2 separate regions of the Homo sapiens genome follow, and region 1 is linked to region 2. The links come from fine-mapping of genetic effects on gene expression. A gene starts in region 2. The other region holds a variant in brackets. All regions are shown on one strand. Distances are between the middles of the regions.

Region 1 (4,000 bases), 250 kb after region 2:
AGGCATGTACCACCACGCCTGGCTAATTTTTTGTATTTTTTTGTAGAAAGGGGGTTTTGCTATGTTGCCCAGGCTGGTCTCGAGGTCCTGGGCTCAACTGATTCTCTTATATTGGCCTCCCAAAGTGTTGGGATTACTGCCGTGAGCCACTCCGTCCAGCCCTTTTTCTTTTTAAAACTTTTAAGCCCTCAAATTCATCCTTGGAGAAAGGCACAGACCACAGACTGTTTCTGTGATTCTGTTTTTTTCTTACAGGCAGGTCCTTAACTTTGGCAAAATAAACTTCTAAATTGATTGAGATCTGTCTCAGATAGTTTTGGTTTACACTGTTTAAAGATTTCCTTTTTTTTTTTTACCTGCTTCAATGGTGCCTACTGACAGACTAAAAGTACATGGAAATCTTCATGCATTAACTTTTTCTTTCTTTTTTGAGACGGAGTCTTGCTCTGTCACCAGGCTGGAGTGCAGTGGCATGATCTTGGCTCACTGCAACCTCCACCTCCCAGGTTCAAGCAATTCTCCTGCCTCAGCCTCCTGAGTAGCTGGGACGACAGGCGCGTGCCACCAAGCCTGGCTAATTTTTTATTTCTTTTTGAGACAGAGTCTCGCTCTGTTGCCCAGGTTGGAGTGCAGTGGCACAATCTCGGCTCACTGCAAGCTCCACTTCCTGGGTTCACGCCATTCTCCTGCCTCGGCCTCCTGAGTAGCTGAGAATACAGGCTCCCGCCACCAGGCCCAGCTTTTTTTTTTCTTTTTTTTTTTTTTTTGTATTTTTAGAGAGATGAGGTTTCACCGTGTTAGCCAGGATGGTCTCGATCTCCTGACCTCATGATCGGCCCGCCTCGGCCTCCCAAAGTGCTGGGATTACAGGTGTGAGCCGCCACACCCGGCCGATGCCCGGCTAATTTTTGTATTTTTAGTAGAGATGGGGTTTCACCACGTTGGCCAGGATGGTCTCGATCTCTTGACCTCGTGATCTGCCCACCTCGGCCTCCCACCAAAGTGCTGGGATTACAGGCGTGAGCCACTGTGCCCAGCGCCACCCCCGCCCTTTTTTTTTTTTTGAGACGGAGTCTCACTCTATTGCCCAGGCTGGAGGGCAGTGGTGTAATCTTGGCTCACTGCAGCCTCCATCTCCCGGGTTCAAGTGATTCTCCTGCGTCAGCCTCCCCCACAGCTGGGATTATAGGCGCGTGGCCATCACATCTGGCTAATTTTTATATTTTTAGTAGCAACGAGGTCTCACCACATTGGCCAGGCTGGTCTTGAACTCCTGACCTCAAATGGTCTGCCTGAGTCACCCTCCCAAAGTGCTGGGATTACAGGCATGAGCCACCGCGACTGGCCTAAGTTTTCTTTTCTTTTCTTTCTTTTTTTTTTTTTTGACACAGAGTCTCGTTTTGTCACCCAGGCTGGAGTAGTGGCACGACCTCAGCTCATTGCAACCTCCGCCTCCTGGGTTCAAGTGATTCTCCTGCCTCAGCCTCCTGAGTAGCTGGAATTACAGGCATGTGCCACCAAGCCCAGCTAATTTTTGTATCTTCAGTAGAGACGGGGTTTCGCCATGTTGGCCAGGCTGGTCTCGAACCCCTGACCTCAAGTGATCCACCCACCTTGGCCTCCCAAAGTGCTGGGATTACAAGCGTGAGCCAGTGCACCCAGCCCCAACTTTTCTATATATCTGTATCTATCTACCTATCTACCTATATATTTTTAAAACCAACAGGCCCTAATGATAGTACCCTTCTTCATGTTTGGATCATATTTAAAAAAAAAAAAAACTTGCCAGATGTGGTACCTCATGCCTCTCTGTAATCCCAGCACTTTGGGAGGCTGAGCTGGGAGAACTGCTTGAGCCCATGACTTTGAGACCAGCCAGGGCAATGTAGTGAGATCCTGCCTCTACAAAAACAAAAACCAAAAAATTAGCACACCCCACCTACTCAGGAGGCTGAGGTGGGAGGATCACTTGTGCCCAGGAGGTCAAGGCTATGGTGAGCCTATGCAACAGAGTGAGACACTGTCTCAAAAAAAAAAAAAAAAAAAAAAAAAAATCATTGTAAGCAACAATGACTAATAA[T/C]GGTGGGTTATCATGACATCCCAGGAGGATTTGTGTATGTGTATTTATATCCTTCCTACTGAACGGTAACACCACACCACGTGCTCAAGGGAAAAGTATGGCGCACACAAACTGCAGGACCTTTTTCTATCCAGCAAATACTCCCTAAGATGCCCAAACTGTTTCTGGACTAAACAGTAATGGTAACAACACATGCGCATGCCACTCTGAGGCTGCTTGGATTTCGTTCCAGCACTCAGTAACTTTGTCATCACAACCCATTCATCTGCTTCCCTCAAGTTTTGCTCATGGGATGGAAACATGTACGTACCGTGCAGCTCTTGTACAGTGAGATGGCTGGGAAGTAAACCCCCTCAAAAATATCTTTGTAAGCCACACCTTGATTGACACCATTTTTATAAAATATTATCTGAAACAAAAACCATGGTTTTACTTCAGAACTGTAAAAAAGAACAAACAAAAAAAGAACTCTCTAGGAAAATATGTTAGAAGTGCTGCTGCCAGACTGCTAGTCACTCACCCAAGAACAGTGCATAACTTGTGTAATAACAACATCTTCAATTTTTATAATACTTTCGATTTTTCAAAGCATGTTAATATGCACTATTCAGGCTTTTTTTTCTTTTTTGAGACAGGGTCTCACTCTGTGACTCAGGCTGGAGTGCAGTGGTGTGATCTTGGCTCACTGCAGCCTCAACCTCCTTGGCTCAAGTGATCCTCCCACATCAGCCTCCCAAGCAGCTGGGACTACAGGCATACACCACCATATCCAGCTAATTTTTAAAATTTTTTTATAGAGACAGATCTCACTGTATTGCCCAGACTGGTCTCAAAGTCCGGGGCTTTGTTTTCTGAATTCCTGTGCTACATATACCAAACATTTCTATATTTTATTATTCATTGCACTGTATTTATAAAAGTAAGCTGGGAGGCCGAGGAGAGAGGATTACTTGAGGCCAGGAGTTGAAGACTAGCTTGGGCAACATAGTGAGACCTCATCTCTACAAAATTTTTTTTTTTTTTTAAAGTAAGCTGGCCTTCCATGGACTCCTTGGGACCACACCTGTTTAAGCGTGCTTGTTTATCAATTCCTTTCCCCGAGTCAGTTCTCACTTCTGCTTTTTCACTTTGAAGTTCTCTAAGACTCTTATGTCACATCTCTGAATCCTCATGTTCCTCCTTTCTCTCCCAGAATTACACTGAATATCCTCTCTTGACCACTTCAATTCTTCAGAAAAGGCTGCCTTCTCTTCCCACAAGAGGGGGCTTTCTGGTTATTGCATCTTTAGATCTAATAATTATTTCTCTTTAGTATTTCTTTCCTAAAAACAGCTGAAACTCGTTTCTTTATTTCACCTCCATCTCCTTCTATTAGTGTCCTGGGTGGCCTCACAGCATTAGCATTTTTATGAAAAAAATGTTTCCAGCTTAACTTTCTTCCTCTACATCCCACTTCCCTTTTTATTTTTGGTGCTTGTGGCTGGCCCAGATGTGCCAGCCTTTCTCTGACTGTGCTATGACCTTGGGCAGACATGTTTCCAGCAACCCCGGAAGTGGAGGCAGAGAAAGTTCTGAAGGACACTGAGTGAGACGTTACAGCTCCTAGTGCCCCTGGGCCACACCACAAGGTCTACTCTCCCACTCCAGGTTCCCTCCCTTTGGACTTGATACCTCCTCTGATAAAGAATAAAGACACTGGACTTGCTTCCTCAGTCTCTTGTAGATTTCCCAACAGGCCACTATTTTTTTTTTTTTTTCATTGATCATTCTTGGGTGTTTCTCACAGAGGGGGATTTGGCAGGGTCACAGGACAACAGTGGAGGGAAGGTCAGCATACAAACAAGTGAACAAAGGTCTCTGGTTTTCCTAGGCAGAGGACCCTGCGGCCTTCCGCAGTGTTTGTGTCCCTGGGTACTTGAG
Region 2 (4,520 bases):
AAACCCAGGTGCCGGGTCAAGGCAACAGTTTATCAACAAAGCAAGGAAGACACAGGAGGAAGAAAAAGAAGAATGGAGGTAGAAAGGCTCATAGAAAAAAAAAAAAGACCAATTTAATCCCTCTTTCCTGGAGATAGAATTAAGCTAGACTTGGTGGCCCGCTTTGGCCATCTGTGTTTTAAAATGTCATATCACAAATAAAAAGTATGCTTTTACTGATAGCTGTAACTTGTGGTACTACTTAAAGCATACGTTTAAAAATATTTAATGATTAATAGTAATGAGATTTTTTTTTTTTTTTTTGAGACATAGCCTCTCTGTGTCGCCCAGGCTGGAGTGCAGTGGCGCGATCTCGGCTCACTGCAAGCTCCGCTTCCCGGGTTCACGCCATTCTCCTGCCTCAGCCTCCTGAGTAGCTGGGACTACAGGCGCCCCCCACCACGCCCGGCTAATTTTTTGTATTTTTAGTAGAGACGGGGTTTCACCGTCTTAGCCAGGATGGTCTCGATTTCCGGACCTCGTGATCCGCCTGCCTCGGCCTCCCAAAGTGCTGGGATTACAGGCGTGAGCCACTGCGCCCAGCCAATACTGATAATTCTCAGTATCTAGTATTAACCGGGTTACGTTTAAAAAAAATAGTTCATAATTAGTGCCCTTTTAAATAACTGATCTGTAGAAATCATTTAATTTCCTTAAGTGATATTTAAAGATAGAGATATCTAATTTCTTGTAATAGTACCAAAGACATCCAGCACTATAACGTCTACAGAGTATGACGTCTAGCGGTAAAATGGCTTTATTCTCAGAACAGAGTATCGGTTTCCTCATTTGCTTGCTGCCTCTGTTTCCTTTTTACGTTCACGTCTCTGTGCTGTAACCTTCCAAATCCTTATCACCAGGCCCCAGGAAATATCACCTGGTCGGCACACTCCTGCAGGGCCAGATCACTGTGCACACACTTAACCTTCCATTGTTTTCCATACGTTTCCTAGGATGCGGGGGGCTAGAGGATGACGGAGAGTTGCCTCCCGGTTCTTCCTCTCGTTCTTATCTTGGGCCCTCTAGGACAAATGTCCCTCACGTCCCTCGATGCGAAGGTCTGGCCGCGAGCAGCCGCGGCCTCCGGCACGTGACGGTCACGGAGCCGTCGCGGTCCCCCGCGGCTGGGGGGCACCCGGGGATGCGGCGGGCGCTGACGTCGTCCTCCCGGTTACCCACAAGCCTCCGGGCCGCAGCAGAGCAGGAAGAGGCGCGCGGGGCCGGCGCCTGCCGGGGAGGTCGAGGCGCTCCCTCGGCGAGCCGGCGCCGCCGGCCGGGTCTCCTACTGCTTGCAACCGGGGGAGGGGGACCATCCGACAGCTCAGCCGGGGCTGAGAGGGAGACGACGCCAAGGCGGTCTTGCATCGCCCCCGGCTTTCCAAATGCAGACCCTACCGGAACCGGAGCCCTTCCCTGACAGCCGTAGGACGGGAGACGGCCGAGGGGTCGCCTGGACTGCCCCGCCCTCGCGCGGTGACCCACCGGGGACCGTGCGAGGGTCGCTTCTAACCCTTAAGAGCTAGAGAGCCGAGTCACCCTGAGGAGCGCCGTATGGCGCTGGTTGCGCGTTGTTCTTTAATCAGCCTCACTGAACGCGCCGATCCCAGTTTTACCTCCCGGGCCCCACCTTTCCACGCCTCCTCCGGCTTCCCGGGGTGTTTTGTGTGTCACTCTCCCACGTACAGTCCCTCCCCGTCCCTCGTTCCTCGGCCCTCTCGCCCGGTCTCCCTAGTCGTCCAGACGCTAGCTGCCGCGGGCGTTCCTGGTTCGCGCTCCCGCCCCCTCCGCCCCGCCGACTCGCCGCTTCCTCCGGAGCCCCAGCGTCCCGAACCAGGGACTGCATTTCCCGGCAGGCGCCGCGGCCCGCGGCCAATGAGGGGCTGAGGATTTGGCGGCGGCGGCGCCCCGAGAGTCGGGGTGGGGGGGCTTTGTGCGCGGCGGCGGCGGGAGAGGCGGCGGCGGCGGCCAGCACGGAGGCGGAGGCCGAGGGGGCTGTGCACAGGTCGCCGCGGAGAGGCGTGCGAATTCCGAGCCGAGCGCCGAGGACCGTGCTACCCAGGCCGGGCTGCCAGCCGCAGGCTCCTCTCTGGCAGCAGCGGCGGCGCGGCGACCCCCGTCCCTCGGCCTCCCCTTCCCATCCCACCTCCCGAGCCTTCCTCTTCCCGCAGCACGCCCGGCCCGGCCCGGCCGTGGCCCTCCTCAGTGCCGGCCGCCATGGCAGAGGCGTCCGGCGCGGGGAAAATCTAGCCCGGGGATTTCATGCGGCCTAGCTCGGTTCCGCCTCCTCCTCGCGCGGCCCCAGCGGCTGCCCGCACCCCAGCCCCACTCCGGGCCTCCGTGTCTCTCCTGTGATCGCACTGACACGGCCGGGGGGTTAGAATGGAACAAACTGAAGGTAAAGTGCGTGTGCGTGTGTGTATGTGTGTGTGTGTGTGTGTGTGTGTGTGCGCGCGCGCGCGTGTGTAGTGCTAGGAAGGGCTGAGGAGGGAACGACGGGGAGGGGGCGACCTAGGGATGGAGCGCCAGACCCCAGGAGGAATGGAAGGGGAAGCGGGTGGCCTGAAAGGGCTCGAGGGGAGTCCTGACGGAGGAGCAGATGGCAAGGTGGGGGGTGTGGAGGGAATTGGGGGGTGGGCCAGGGGAGGTGGGGAGTGGGATGGGAGTCGGAGTGGCGCTGAGCTGGGAATTGGGAAAGTGGGATGGGGGCGGGGATAAGGATGGATCGGGGAGGGGCAGGGAAAGGGGAGAAGAGTTGCATGGAGATTACAGACCTGGGTGGACTGATAAATAGGGAGATTTGGGGATGGAGTGTAGGAACCAGAAGAGTCTGGGAGAAGGGGATAAATTTGCTGGAGAAATGGGGCATTTTATGGGAATGAAGGGAGAAATGAGGAATGGAAGTGAAGGAAAAGGTGGATTAGGAAAGGGGATGAGGCAGGCTGCAATAGGAGAATGGGAAATAGACGCAGGAAACTGGAAGACAGGATTGGGCTAGGGAAGGAAATTAACTGAATGATGACAGGGATGAGAACGATCGACTTAGCGTCAGAGTGGGAGGAAGAGAAGGGGATGGAGGTCGTTAAAGTGTTAGGAAGGGAGGCCTTTTGTTCCTGTATTTGTGTGTATTCTGTGTCTTTCTTTCAAGGCTAGAGAATAGAGAAGCTGGTGGTTATGGGATTGTGATTGTTGTGAAATGGGGAGGTGTGGGTTTTACTGTTTTGAGGGAGAAGGCGATGTGTTTGTGTTATGGAAGGGAGGCAGGGAGAGACATGGCCATAATTTGATGGTTTTGGGGAGGGAGTGAAGATTATTTCGATTTAAAGGGGGCAGGGGCAGCCATGTTTGCTGCCAAGGCACTGCAGTGTAAATAAATTCCTTTTCCTCTCCGACATCAGTATGAATCTGGAAGGGGCCAATTCAGACTGTTAGCCCCCTTTCTTTCTATTCATGAACTCTTTTCCCCTTACGTCTTGGGTCATTTTAAATTATTCATAACCGCCAAAGGAGGTAGTGATGTTTTCCATCACTACCTTTTTGATGCTTTTCTCCCTCTCTTTACCCTCTTCCTTCTGGTTGCAAACAAGGTATGCTAATGAGCTGCAGTGTAAATTTAACCCATTTAATCAATTTAAAACTAGATTTTTACTAGCTGAAGGAATCATTACTACGCTTACATATCAAACATGATCGTGAAGTCTTTTACGTATTGAAAATTCGTTTGTTTCGGAAGCCTCAGAAGCAGTCAACATGTTTTCTGCAATTCTTTAAGTAAACAAGGAAATTGCATCGGTTATTTTACTTGGGCCTGTGCTCTTGGCAAAGCGCTGTGTCCGGGTGAAAGGGGTAGGAAGCTCTGCTTGTGGTAGATTATCGGCTTGCTGTATTTTGAATGTTGAAAAATTAGAAATGTATGTATTTTTAAATAGTATTTCTGATAGCTCTTGCTTATAGGTGATGAGCGTGTTAAGTGATGAGTGTGTTAAGAATAGTATTTTCTTTTTTAAATAAACTCTCTTTTCCCCATCTCTTCTCTTTGCCTTCATGTAGCTGGCTCAATACAATCTCCAGATGCCAGTTCAGCACAGTGCAATGATCTGTGAAGTAGGCATGCAGTTCTTAGAGTCTCATTGAGATGCCAGGGTTTTTTTGTTGTTGTTTTGTTTGTTCGTTTTTTGATTGAAACTTCAGTTGACTCTCAGGAAACTACAGTAACTAATATATTCAACTGTAACTACTTGTACAATTTGAAATAATTACTATTCTAAGGTTTAAATCCTGACAAATTTACAGAACATACATTGGTGTTAAGTAGAGCCTATTTTATTTCATATTGGATTAAATGTGTGTGTGACCTTTTGTTTTTATTATAGCAGTTGGAGTAATCCAAACTTTAACCTATCACATTGATATTGAAACTGTTCTCTAATACCAAGAAGGCCTGTTAACATTGTAATATGGTGGACTCAAACCAGTTGAACTAC

Direction of the effects. Alleles are on the strand shown, and positions count from the first base shown. SD is a standard deviation of normalised expression in the study named.
As copies of C replace T in region 1, the expression in putamen of the gene that starts at base 1,962 in region 2 goes down (small effect, 0.33 SD a copy in GTEx).

Evidence for each region. PIP is the estimated chance that this variant, and not a neighbour inherited with it, causes the effect.
Region 1: its variant is fine-mapped to the expression of NSD3 in putamen (GTEx, PIP above 0.99).

Annotation. Positions count from the first base shown.
Region 1 is chr8:38,134,157-38,138,156 of GRCh38, reverse strand. ASH2L (ASH2 like, histone lysine methyltransferase complex subunit) reads right to left here. Exons shown (of 16, transcript NM_004674.5): 14 at 2,391-2,489. Among named protein-coding and RNA genes, the nearest start is that of STAR, 15 kb to the left of the region's middle. RefSeq lists an enhancer at 3,453-4,000. The variant T/C (reference allele first, on the strand shown) is at 2,081.
Region 2 is chr8:38,379,713-38,384,232 of GRCh38, reverse strand. NSD3 (nuclear receptor binding SET domain protein 3) reads left to right here and starts at 1,962. Exons shown (of 24, transcript NM_023034.2): 1 at 1,962-2,434. It also overlaps a transcript of LETM2 not described here. RefSeq lists silencers at 1,056-1,405, 1,596-1,745, 1,776-2,175 and enhancers at 1,824-2,614, 2,905-3,439.